2 linked regions of the Homo sapiens genome follow. The protein of the gene in region 2 binds, or shares a complex with, the protein of the main gene of each other region. Each region holds a gene or a part of one and is shown on either strand. Other genes may lie near its edges. The genes, in order: PEX14 and PEX19. A codon is read from its position in the direction of its gene.

Region 1 (7,280 bases), about 150 Mb from region 2:
TACTGTAACTAAATCAAAATCCTGCCTCTCCCAGAGAACCAGGGATATCAGAATTTCAGCCAATATAAATTTTGAGCCTCAAATGATAACGTCTGTGAAAAACAAGAGCTTGGAAGGAAGTACTGATGCCCTTTCAACTGTGGCCTCACTAGTGGGCTCGGCTGCGATAATGCAAGGAACATGTTTTATTAGGAAAATAGGCTTCATAAAAGCTCAGGGCCAGAGGGCAGAACTGCGGGCAGGGCGTCCTGTCCCTTTAACCAGCTCCGGCCCTCAGGGCCACAGCACAGTCTGTAACTTACTGTATATTTCCCCAGTGTTAAACATTATTGTACTTGTTTATATTTGAAAGAGCCAAAAGGGAAAATGAGAATGCAACTGAATGCTCCTTTTGGGAAAATTATCTTCATTTGCAGCCAGCGGCTGACAAGGCACACGAACCACCAGGTTTATAAAATTCCGTAGTGTACCAGTGACCATCAGCCTGTGCTGACATCGCAGATGCTGCTTTCTTCTCTAATGGCTGATTATGAACTGGTTAAAACAATGTCTTTCCCACCAGGGCTCCGAAAGGGGTTCCCCTTCCTGTTTAGTCGGAGCGATCGGCAGTCACTACACAGGCTGGAACCTGAGAGGCACAAACTCAGGGCGGGGGTATTCTCTGTTGTTGCCTGGCTTGCCTGTTGGTCCTGTCCCTGTTCTTCTTGGAAGGTGAAATTATGGGTAAAGCAGTCCCTTTGCAGCAAGCACCCCCTCTCTAGCTCCACTCTACTGACCTTCAGCTTTTGTCTTTGGAAGGTGGTACGTGATGCGCTGTGAACCCTGGAAGCATTTTCATCCAGCCCACCAATCTGTTGAGAGCATGGTGCTATCAGGGCAACCCGGTGGCTCTTCAGACTTCCCAGTGGTGAGGCTGTGCCTGCCCTTGGCCAGCTCCACTGTGTGAAGAGGGTAAAGAGGGGAACAGCTGCAGTTTTAAATGGGGATAGTCCTCAACTCCTCAGCACAGAGAAGGGAAAAAAGAGTCCAGGGCTGTTTAGAAAAGTTCGGGCATTTTCCTTTGACTAGCTGTGGTAGGGCATGAAAAGTTTGAGGGGTGGCTGCAGTCAACTCATATGCCAGTATGGTGCAGGGCGGAGCTGTGCTTTAAAGCATTAATGTGCACCATCTATTAGCCCCTAGGCATGGAGTATGAGGCACCATCCTTTTGAAGATGCTGATCCTCAGAACCTCCTTGTACTTCATCTACCCCCAGGGGCAAATATACCATGCTGTGGGCCTCTAATGGAGAGCTGCCGACCAGATGTGGAAAAGCTCTCGGCTGTAGTTTAAAAGCTCTGTGTTGCGGCTCGCTTGGATGTTGGGATTCCTGGAACAGCAAGGGCTGGCCGAGTGGTCTTTTGCAGACTAACAGTGACCTCCCACCTGCTTTTCCCACTCTCAGCAGCTGGAGTGCCTTTGTACACACAGCTACTTCCTGAGCTGGCCCCGTGTGACCGCTCCTTTCATACTTGAGCGCCACATTTCATTCTGTTCTTTGGGTTGGATGGGGCTCTCTTCCTCCTCCCAAGAGTCAGTGTCCCAAATTGGCTCAGACCCGGTGGAAATATCCCAGCTGTGTCCCCACTGGAAATGCGGCCTTCATGGGTTTTCATTTGCCTTTTATTCTTCTGTGGGCAAATCCTCTCCACATGGCATAGCCACTGCAGATGGCGCCCTGCCACTTCCTGATGTCCCATGTATGGTGTGGTTTAGAGTGTCGGGAGGATTTCAAGAAGGGAAAAGAAAAACTAGCCAAAGGCGATACAGGCAGCGTGTGATAGGCTAGAATAATAATCATCTGAAAGTTTGGGCCTGGCCTTGTTTTGATCTGTTTTCTTGTTTTATTTTCTTCTTTACATTCTATATCCCATTCATACTAATCACAGTCAGTCCTGATTTTTCTTTTTATTTCTGCATTTGTCATAAAATAAAGCAAATTATTCCCGTCTTCAGAAACGATCTAGACTAATTAGTCGTCTCACCCAATAATTAGTTTTTTGTTTCCCTGTCTGTTTTCGTGCATTATTGTTAGTTTTTTCCCCTCTTTTTTTTTTAACACCATTACAGATTAAAATGAGCCACATTTGCAGTTGATGGTATCTGTTTTCGGGGGAAGAATGGAGAATTGCAGTACCGAGCGACTTCAAAAGCAGCAATAAACTCAAGGATAAATTAAGGAAATTGAATGAGCCACATTTGGAAGCAGTGTTGAGGCTAATATTCTGTCGCTTAAGGTTAAATTGCAACTGAGAGAGGTTCCGGAGAATCTGAAATCGGGGAGGCAACTTACTAGGATGCGAGGCATTCTGTGGCTGTAAAGGTCTTTGCTCAGTGAAGATTCTGTTGCAGCTATGGACACTGACAAAAGGTACTCACCTGCAATGATGTCCTCTTCTCCCCAGGGCTGACAGATGAAGAGATTGATATGGCCTTCCAGCAGTCGGGCACTGCTGCCGATGAGCCTTCGTCCTTGGGCCCAGCCACACAGGTGGTTCCTGTCCAGCCCCCTCACCTCATATCTCAGCCATACAGTAAGTCACCCGCTCAAACTCCTGCTTAACCTTGATTGGGATTCAGGACTCTGGCCAAAGGGCAGTGTTCTGTATCTCCCAGACTTAGCAAACCAGGAGAAACTGGGAGCAGCAGAAAGCTCTTGGGTTTTTCCCAAGGAATGTGACACACCCCAGTCTTCTAGACAAACTTTTTAAAGTATGTGACAAAGGTTTAAGAAGAGACAAGGGATCAGAATAAATGATTTTATTGTTGTTTCAGGTATTTTGGTTACATGCAGAAAACCTGTACAACTATTTATTGATTCTGTTCCCATCTCCTCATACCAGTGCTTTTGAATGTTACTGTTTCACTAAAAACAGCGTGACCATCTGACTCATGGGTGCATTCTTGTTTGCTCACTGCAATAACCTGTCTCCCACTTCTATTTTTTTAAGTTAATATTTGTAAGTTTAGGTCAGCCTCCATTTCCCTCCCTCCCTTGTCCTGGCTATACTTTGTACGTTTATGTAGTAGCGGTCTGTTAGGGAATTTCAGGTTAAAACATGAAGTTCCTTTTTGAATGTTTCTTTTAATTATACGAGATCATGACCCATGAGGGGTCTTTCGTTGTCTTAAATGAAAGCTACTATAGGAATAAAGTTTCTTCAAACAAGTTATAAATGCATACCTCCAAAATGCAGCCAGAAGCCCTCCTTGAAATCACTTATAAAAAGTTTAAAAAGGCTAAAATTGACTACAAAGTTATGGAAAATAGCTCCATTTTGTTTCTTTAATGAAACTCAGCATTGGGCCGGGCACGTTGGCTCACGCCTCTAATCCCTGCACTTTGGGAGGCTGAGGCGGGTGGATCACCTGAGGTCAGGAGTTCGAGACCAGCCCGGCCAACATGATGAAACCCTGTCTCTACTAAAAATACAAAAAATTAGCCAGATGTGGTGGCAGGCGCCTGTAATCCCTGCTACTCAGGAGGCTGAGGAAGGAGAATTGCTTGAACCCGGGAGGTGGAGGTTGCAGTGAGCCGAGATCGTGCCACTGCACTCCAGACTGGGCAACAAGAGCGAAACTCTGCCTCAAAAAAACAAACAGGCAGGGTGCAGTGGCTCACATCTGTAATCCCAACACTTTGAGAGGCCAAGGCAGGCGGATCACTTGAGGTCAGGAGTTCGAGACCAGCCTGGCCAACGTGGTGAAACCGTGTCTCTACTAAAAATACAAAAAATTAGCCGGGCGTGGTGGCACACGCCTGTAATCCCAGCTCCTTAGGGGGCTGAGGCAGGAGAATCACTTAAACCCAGGAGGTGGAAGTTGCAGTGAGCCGAGATCACGCCGCTGCACTCCAGCCTAGGTGACAGAGTGAGACTCTGTCTCAAAAAAAATAAAATAAAATAAAGAAACTCAATACTGGATCTGTGATCTCTCAAAATGCCTTTTCTATAATTGTTATTCTCAGAAGTTTTATTTTTGCAAAAAATGATTTAAAACTGTTAGATATCAGATTTTAAGGCCGGGCGCAGTGGCTCCCGCCTGTAATCCCAGCACTTTGGGAGGCCGAGGCGGGTGGATCATGAGGTCAGGAGTTCGAGACCACCCTGGGCAACAAGAGCAAAACTCCATCTCAAAAAAACAGACAGGCCGGGCGCGGTGGCTCACGCCTGTAATCCCAGCACTTTGGGAGGCCAAGGCGGGCGGATCACTTGAGGTCAGGAGTTGGAGACCAGCCTGGCCAATGTGGCAAAACCCTGTCTCTAATAAAAATACAAAAATTAGCTGGGCATGGTGGCGGGTGCTTGTAATCCCAGCTACTCAGGAGGCTGAGGCAGGAGAATCGCTTGAACCGAGGAGGTGGAGGTTGCAATGAGCTGAGATCATGCCATTGCACTCCAGCTTGGGTGACAAGAGCAAGACTCTGTCTCAAAAAAAAAAAAAAAAAAAAAAGTGTTAGATATCAGATTTTAAAAGGCATATTTTAAAATGACAGATTCGTTTTGATCCCCCAGCACCTGGTCTGAAGCTGCCTTCTTTCCCTCACCTCAGCACTGTTTTCATCCAGCTCAGCTGCAGCTAGGCAGGTGTGATCTTGGCAGTAGAGCCAAAAAGGCCTTCTCTTCTCCGGACTTGCTGAAGGGCCAGCCAGTGGGTTGGAATCTGCTGTCTGTGTTACGGATCTTATTTAGAGATCTCCTCCTTTGGCTGTCCACAGAAGGCTGAATGGGGGAGGCCAGGGAGTGTGTGCTCAAGTGTGTCAATCTGTCAGTGCCTTGCATGGGTGACCCACTGCAGGTTGCAGAGCTTCAGTGGTGAGCCTTGTCCTGTATTTGGGCTACTGGGTTAGCACCTGTGACTTGTCAGCTTGGGGCTCCTTTCTCCTTCCTGGCCAGCATTTTTTCCAATCCATTGTAGTTGCTTTGGGTCCTAAGCTGACTTTATGTGCTTCTTTTTAACCAAAGGCTGAGTCTCCACACTTTTTCTTTAGTTGTGTCCCTGGGCCCAGCCGTGTAATGGGATTTGTTGAGGATAGGCAGCGGCAGCTGGGGTGCAGAATTTTCTAAGATGCACATCTGTTCTGTTCCAGCTGTTTCCTCCAGTGGCTTAATACCGAACAGGTCTCTCGGCTACTTGGAAACTTCTTACTCAGAACAAATTGTTCTGGTTGATCACAGAGTTGGCCTAAAACATCATATGTTCACCTACTTTCCATAGACACAAAGGGTTAAACTGTTAGTCTTTCTGAAAGAGGCAAAAGAATGGGGTGGGGAGGGGCAATTCAGTTATTTAAATCATACTCATGTCCAGATCGCTCTGAGAAAAAGCAATACACGTTGAGGTATTTAGGTAGGAATATTTTTAAGAGCCTTCCAGCCCCTAAAAATAAAATACACATTCTTAGACACAGACTTCTTCCTGCTTTGACACTAGTGTAAAAACAATGGTAATGATAATTTTAAATACCTGAAGTTTTTAGTTGTCATCATTGAGCTTCATTCTTCTCATACCGTTACATTGCTCCTCTCACTCCGGGGGTGACTCTACCTCTTCACTTCTGTACTTTTGCCAAGAGGTGTCAAAACTGCTTAAAAAAAAAAAAAGCTTGATTTTGATTAATATAGAGAAACAAGACTTTGCCTGACTGATAATAAAACTGATAAATGACATTTGAATTACTTGTAGCGGTAATTTATTACATAAAATATCTTTTATTTGACATGCGATTAGTTGCTGGAAGCATCACTCAATCTGACTAGTTTAAACATGCTCCAAAATGAACCCCAGTAAAAACCAGGGCTGTCTGCTGCTGGCATTATGAAATATACTAATCCTGGAGTGAGGGAAAAATCTGACTTTAAATATTTAAATGATTAATTGGGTTTATATATTTTTTTACTTTTCTAACCCCCTTAATTACAAGCAAACTCAGGGGAGTTTCTGAACTAGGTGCACAATCTGCATGCTTATCACTGAGGCATTGTCTGCGTCGGGAGGGATTTATGGCCTCTATTCATGTGTGTTCCTGCCGATTTTACATCTAGATCCCCGGCAGCCTTTTCCTTCCCATTTCTTGGCTTTTTACGGACATTCCATCTCTGAGCCCAAGGCTAGAAAATGGGATCCCCTGGGCCTAGCCCCAAACACTCAGGTCTCAGGGTAGGGTAGCTTTTCCAAGACCACCCCAGGGAGCCCAGTGCTCTTCACCTTTGAACCTGCTGGCCCACCTGCTCAGTGGCAGGTGTGCCACTGAGTGCCTCTTTTGGCATCTCTGTTCTTTGGTGAATGTGGTTGACCTTGAGATGTTAGCAAATGCCAGTGTTGGCAGAGAGAACGTAGAGACCTGCCCAAATAGTAACAGTTCAATTTCTCAGTATTTTTATTAACCATCTACTATACGGTCAGTACTATATCATGCGAGAGATCCAAAACCTGATCTTTAAGCATCTTGCTAAGCTCTTTGGGAAAGATAAGATAAACTCTTAAGAAAAGGATAATAATATAAGATGTTGTGATTTAATGCCAAAATTAATTATACAGACAAGAAATTCTGAAATTCTGAAATATAGAAAAGAGAAGAATTAATGTGGGCTAGAGTCAGGGAAGGCTTTTGTGAAAGTGATAGGAGGTTGGCACCAAGGGGAAGCTTGGTGTCACCTGGTGTGAGCATAAACCAGTGCTCTCGGGGGCTAGAAGAAAGTTGGTACAGTTCAGGAGAAGTCAGGCTGTGATTCGAGAGAAGATTTGAAATTCTCCATTTCTCATTTTGGTTTCTTGTCTGGCTTTACATCGGGAGTCAGTGCATGTGTATAGGTGCAGGCCTAGCCCAGTCCTGAGCAGAGGTCTGATAAATGCTGGTTGATTGATTCACGCCAAGCTGATTTGTCTTCGTCCTCCCAGAGAGACCAAGAAGCTTTGAGATATAAGCAGGACCAGTGTAAATTTTGTAGGATAATAATTTCTTCTTAGATTTGAACATTTTCCCTCCACTGTCTTTGATAAACAATTTAAACCCCTTCAAAGACTGACCTAGAGCTTCAGTTGCTTCTTCTCAAAATAGGATGTCAGCATCTGAGGCCGGTGAAAGGTTTTGAACCATTTGATTAGAAATCCTGAGAGAGAGTGAGTTATTCCTCTGTTTATTTCTTTTGTAGCCCTGTGTAGTAACACAAACTTATCTGTGGTTATCTTAATTCACTGAGCAAGCATTGTTATTGAATGCCTACTGTGTGCCAGACCCC
Region 2 (6,107 bases):
GTGATTACAGAAGAGTTCTGTGTCACTCATTGTGGTGTGAGAACAGAGGATGAACAGTGCTTTTCCACTCAATGATTAACTGATAAATGTCTCTTTCCATTGATAGTTTATGAGTCTAAGAACTATCTCAGGCTTAAAAACTGGACAAGAAATGGGGACTTTTCTTTGAAGTTTCTGACTTCAGCCTTCTGTTCAACCATTCTTGATCTCCCTTATATATAAGACAATACTCTTCTTGGTTGCCCATCTATCCTGCTCCTAGGACCACTCACATTCCGTTAGCCATCTCCACTTTGACCTTGCTACCCTTAAGGAAATTTACTCACCTTGCTTCTGAGAGTTAAGTGTTGCCACCTGGCCTCTGCTATGTCAGGATCCTATCATTCCCCCACTGCTACTAGGAAAACAGTTTCTTTTACATCTTGTATCAGCTTCGATCTAGAGAGACAGCCACTTCTAAATTTCTCAAAGATGCTGGTAACCCTTCATCAGTGCCTTTCCCATTGTCTTTATTAAAAAATAATTCCCAGGTCTTTCTGGGGTAGTCAGCTGGTGGGTTTACCAGTGTTATATAACATTCATTCTTGCATACCCATTTCCTCTAAGTCTTTTGGTCCTTTTTTGTATGGTCTGCCGTCTCCACGTCATTCAATATGGGCCAATGTTTTCTCCTAGCTCCCCAAAGCCATCTTAACATCATATTATAACTGCCTCATGGGGCTTTGACAAGACCTTCCAGAGTCACAGGAAAATGTCCCAATTATCAAAAAGTCTGTATTAATTCAATTCTTAATTCATGAAGCCACCCATACAATCACAAATTTATCTAACACATTTAATTTTGGAACAAAGGAGCAACTCCTTTAAAGTTTGAGAGTCGCATAAATATTTCATATACAGCTTAAACCTAAGCTTTGTAACGATTATTTTTGAGCAGCAGAAAAGGAAGGCTAGAGAAATGCTAGAGATGTCCTTACTAGTGACACATTCTTGCTGAAGAACAAGTTCTCTGGAAGTGAAACTCAAATAGGAGAGAACAAGAGATACAGGTAGGTATCAGTTCTGCTAGGGTCTTCAGAGAGACCGAGGGCCCCAAAACAGTGCTACTCAAAGATGATCTGCAGACTTGTGCTGGTCAGTGAACACCTTTTTTTTTTTTTCACCAGTCTGTGACATGGTGAATTAGAAATTGAGAGTGTTTAAAAACTTTTTAGCATTTCAATGTTGCTGTGATATCCAAGTACATGATCAATGGACTTAACCTACAGAACAGTCTGGCCAGTTTGGGTGCTGTCAAACTTGCCGGGTCGGCAGCACACAGTGTGAACTCCATACCTGTCATGGGCAATAGGAATGCATATTGATAAGTGAAGGACTGGAAAACAAAAAACCTGGTCCTTTACCATACATAGTTTGAGAAAGACTGCCCTAGAGTACCATAACTCCACCACAAGTCCTGGAATAATTCCAAAAGTTTTTGGAACAAAGTGTGACCTGAGGTCAACCTGCTCACATTCAATCAAAATCAAAATAAAAATGAGTGCCTTGGGAACAAAGATAAAGTGGACTAGGGCATCTATTTAGATTCCTGGAGTAAGCCCTGGCTAGGCTAGCAGAAGTGAGAATCTGTAAAAGAAAACTGGTAGGACAGAAGGCACAAGGTTCATAGAGAAGGGCTCTTTTGTTCTTCCCTCCTCCTCTCTATCCTTGTCCAGTTTTTGGCTGGAGCTTTAAGGAGAAAATAGTGACACTGAAGCCCCATGACTATATCACAAGTATACCTGTATTTTTTCCATCTCTGGCAGAACAGAGACGTTTTACATTCAGATCTGGGCTCTTCCATGCTCTGGTAAGGTATAGGAGTTGGAATTTCCCAAATAGCCTGAGACCTTGAGAACATTTCCTTCCTCACCAATACCATAAAACATGTAAGGTCTTCAAGGGGTGAAAAGTTTTAACCTCGGGGCAAGTGACATGTCAGAAGCTCAAAGCGACTCATAATGCATGTGAATTTGCTTTGGAGAGACTTATCTTCTGAGTGAACCAGGACAGCCAGCTGAGCTGACCAGAGTACCTACCAACATATGTCAGCCAAGGTCCGTAGACCCACTGGGAGCCACAGAAAAAAAGCCACGTCAGCTTAAAGAAAAATAATTTAGAAAACATAACAATATATTACTAACATTAATAACAATAATGTAAAAGGTTAAAATATAATACCACTTGAAGGGCTTTCTACATTGAAATACTCAAGGGAACATGAGGAAAGATGGCCATCCAGTCTCCTTTGCCAACTGAGGTGCAGACTGAGTTGTGGAAGGTGGGTGTTGATGGAACCCAGCATTACAATATTGTGTAGAACTAGTCTCCTAATATACCTCACTCTGCAACTTACGGAAGCTGAGGAAGATCAGAAAAAGACCACACTCCTCACTCAGAATATTTATTATATTCTGCCCCATGGGGCCTTGCAGGAAAAGGGACCCAAGCTATACCCCTACTCCTTTTCCAAGCTACTTTCCTGAACCAAGGGACAGGATTCTAAGAGAATCATGTATCTCAAATAAGCCAGAATGTATCTGGGGAAGAATAGCCATTAATTTCCTAGACCTGACACTGGGTTTATTTGTGTCTGCCAGGAAGACGGGGAGTCAGTGAGAATCGTAAATGGACTAGATGAGGGGAAATAGGATGGGCCCTTCTTTATCACAGCTTGAGCTCAAAAAGGTTGGGATAAACAGGTGTTTAAAAAAGAGAGGAGGTAAAAGGGAGGATGGGCAGGGGATAGAGGAAGGTCAGGGGCTGGGTTCACCCATATCACACAGCATTGTAGGAAGAAGCAGGGTAACCATTTGAGTTCTCAGCCTGGAACAGGGAGGTGAGGGCTCAGCACCTAGAGAGAGGAGAATCCTAAGGCCTCTCTTTCAACTCTATTGTGATTAGATGCAAAAGCCCTTTCCCTTTAGAGAATTCAGAATGGTCTGTCTGAAGGCAAGAGAGCATAGTGACAGACCTGTAGCCCCAGCCCAGGCTGTTTCTCCCCATTCTCAAAGGCTCTGCCAGGAGAACTATAGAAATACAGAGTCCCAGGTCTCTGCCCCTCCTCCCCAGATCCAAGAGAGGGAGTAGAGACAAGGCACAAAGACCCTGGACGTAAAGGTGAACATCAGTGTGGCCACATATAACATTATTTTGAGAAAGGAAAGAAAGTGCATGCCCCAAAAGGGATGCCTTCCTTCACCTTGCAGGTAGCTGGAACTTTGATAGTGGCAGAAACCACAATGGAGTAGGGTTCACAGAAATGGCCTGTGAAACAGACCCTATTCCTAGAGAGACAGAGGAAAAACCTCAGCTGGTATGGCACAATCTTGAATGGGATGACAGAGGGCAGCGGGCAGACTTCTCCCGCAGGTGACACTCCTGCCTCAGGTCCCAATGGTTCTGCTGACTCCAGATGTTCCCCATAGCTGGGACTCAGAGAGGAAAACGTGTTGTGTTTCACATGATCAGACACTGTTCACCACTGGCACCTGGTGGGCCCGAAAGATTGAGGGCATCCAGGTCAAAGTTGAGGCCAGGAGGCTGGGGAAGAGATGAAGGGACTCAGATAGTTGCTCATTTTTTAGGACAGACGTGAAGATCCATCCCCAGTAGCCACAATTTTCACCTTAGGTGGAATCCTGAGAGGTTAAAGAATTCTGGAAATTGGGGACTCAAATTAAAATCTGGAAAAATAAGACATACTCACCATCTCTCCAGCCAGCTCTTTTGGAGGATGGCCTAAATCTTGTAGCTAGAAAATAAGGAAAATGGAACATGAAATAGAGAAAAGCCCAGAAAACAACAGAGGATCCAGAAGAGGAATCTAATGAATGATCTCTCTATTTCTTCTGAGAGAGATCACAAGAGAGGATCCCTCCTCCACCTAGGTCTAGCAGTATTGCATCCTTCCCAGATACTTCCTTCACTGAACACCTAAGTGGACAGCACCAGTGGGCAGAAGGCAAGAGGCCTTACCTGCTGCATAAGATCCAGCACCATCTCAAAACGAGCCTTTTGAGTGGTTTCACTGTCTGTGGGGGTCTCTGCCTCAAACTGCTCACATATTTTGCACATGACGCTGTGCTGCTCCTGATATTTTTCAAACTGCTCTGGAGGTAGAGATTCCCGATGACTCTGCAACCATTCTGGATACTAAGAAAAGAGAGAATGGGTGGAAAAGAATTAAGTGAACAATGGATATGGATGGGTAATCAGAACAATGTGATTAAAATGTGAAAGGGAAAGGGACGTAGAAAAACGAAAAGCTAAATAAGTAAGTTCATCATGAAAAGCGGCACTGACTCCAACCAGATCACCTGGCCATGTTAGCATTTATGGTCACCAGAGATTGGTAAGCTTCTGTAAAGGGCCAGACAGTGAATATTTTAGGCTTCAAGGGCCACATATGGTCTCTATTGTGTTTTTTTTTTCTTTTTTTTCGAGACAGAGTTTTACTCTGTCACCCAGGCTGGAGTGTGATGGTGTGATCACCACTCACTGCAGCCTCGATCTCCCCAGGCTCAAGCAATCCTCCCACCTGAGCCTCCCCAAGTAGCTGGGTCTACAAGTGTGCACCACTGTGACTGGCTAATTTTTTTGTATTTTGTAGAGACAGGGTTTCATCATGTTGCTCAAGCTGGTCTTAAACTCCTGGGCTCAAGCAATCTGTCCACCGTGGCCTCCCAAAGCGCTGGGACTATAGGAGTGAGCCACTACGCTCGGCTATTGCACATTTTCTTTGTAGTTTTTTTCAAATGACCTTAAAAATGTAAAAACCATTATTTGCTAGAGAGTTGGATTTGTCCCACCCAGGTCTTGGCCTGCTGACTCGTGGTCTGTACTATTCATTACACACTTACCCACATTTCCCCATGTCACTGAAAAGCTTCTATTCCTGTATTTTATCTCTCCAGTAAAACTATACACTCTTTAGCCAGGTGTGGTGGCTCACACTTGTAATCCCAGCATTTTGGGAGGCTGAGGTGGGAGGATCACTTGAGCTCAGGAGTTTGAGACCAGCCTGAGCAATATAGTGAGAGCTCAACTCTACAAAAAATTTTGAAAACATTGGCCAAGCATGGTGGCACACACCTGTAGTCCCAGCCACTCAGGAGGCTGAGATGGGAGAAACACTTGAGCCTGGGATGGGGAGGCTGTGGTGAGCCAAGATCGTGCCACTGTGCTCCAACTGGAGCTAGACCCTGTCTCAAAACAAAATGATACAACCACACATATAAGCTCTTTTATGGCAGGGACCATCATTTAAACTACGCTTACACTGTTCACATCACAAAGCCAGTAAGTAAATCCTCAGTTAATTCTTTTTCTTTTTCAGATGGAGTCTTGCTCTGTCACCCAGGCCGGAGTACAGTGGCACAATCTCAGCTCACTGCAACCTCTGCCTCCCAGGTTCAAGTGATTCTCCTGCTGCCTCCTGAGTAGTTGCGATCACAGGCGTGAGCCACTACGCCAGGATAATTTTTGTATTTTTACTACAGACGGGGTTTCACCATGTTGGCCAGGCTGGTCTCGAACTCCTGACCTCAGGTGATCCACCCGCCTCGGCCTCCCAAGGTGCTGGGATTACAGGCATGAGCCACCATGCCCAGCCAAATTCTTGCTGGAGAAATGAAGTCAGAAATGCAAGATTGATCAGACAACAATCCCAGAGTCTTGAACCAGTTTATAGAAAACTAGAACTGAAGGATTTCCTCTTAGACCCCAAACGTTATACCTCTTATACCCCAACATACCGTGTGACAGCTTTATTCTCTCAGAGACACAACTCTCCCCAACCCCCAACTCTCCCTGCCTCAAATAAATAAAGAAGGAAAAAAAGCACACTCGAGTTACTCTTTCTGCAGGCTCTGAGTAGACAAAATAGCCCACATCAGTTGATGTGATGGAAAATGAAGAGAAAAAGCAGAAATGGAAGTTCACAAACCTTTTCTGTGATCTCCTTCAGTGATGGGTACAGCACATCCTTGGAGAGTAGGTTCTGCATAATACTCTGCATGATGGGGAGGATGTTCCCTTCCCCATCCCCTTCGTCCATGCCTAGCCCC

Evidence for each region.
Region 1: the proteins of PEX19 (region 2) and PEX14 are in contact, whole or in part, in an NMR structure (PDB 2W85), measured with the Homo sapiens proteins. Residues at the interface, in NP_002848.1 of Homo sapiens: Gln67, Phe70, Phe71, Leu74, Phe75, Ser77; in NP_004556.1 of Homo sapiens: Leu28, Thr31, Ala32, Lys34, Phe35, Asn38, Ser39, Arg40, Val41, Ser44, Thr48, Phe52, Lys56, Leu58 (codon at 2,447).

Annotation. Positions count from the first base shown.
Region 1 is NC_000001.11:10,596,794-10,604,073, forward strand, and holds part of PEX14 (peroxisomal membrane protein PEX14), read left to right. Parts: intron 1-2,444; coding exon 2,445-2,573; intron 2,574-7,280. UniProt on the Homo sapiens protein: Component of the PEX13-PEX14 docking complex, a translocon channel that specifically mediates the import of peroxisomal cargo proteins bound to PEX5 receptor.
Region 2 is NC_000001.11:160,276,053-160,282,159, forward strand, and holds the end of PEX19 (peroxisomal biogenesis factor 19), read right to left. Parts: coding exon 5,987-6,107; intron 4,195-5,986; coding exon 4,018-4,194; intron 3,794-4,017; coding exon 3,749-3,793; intron 3,583-3,748; coding exon 3,499-3,582; 3' UTR 755-3,498; downstream 1-754. UniProt on the Homo sapiens protein: Necessary for early peroxisomal biogenesis. Acts both as a cytosolic chaperone and as an import receptor for peroxisomal membrane proteins (PMPs).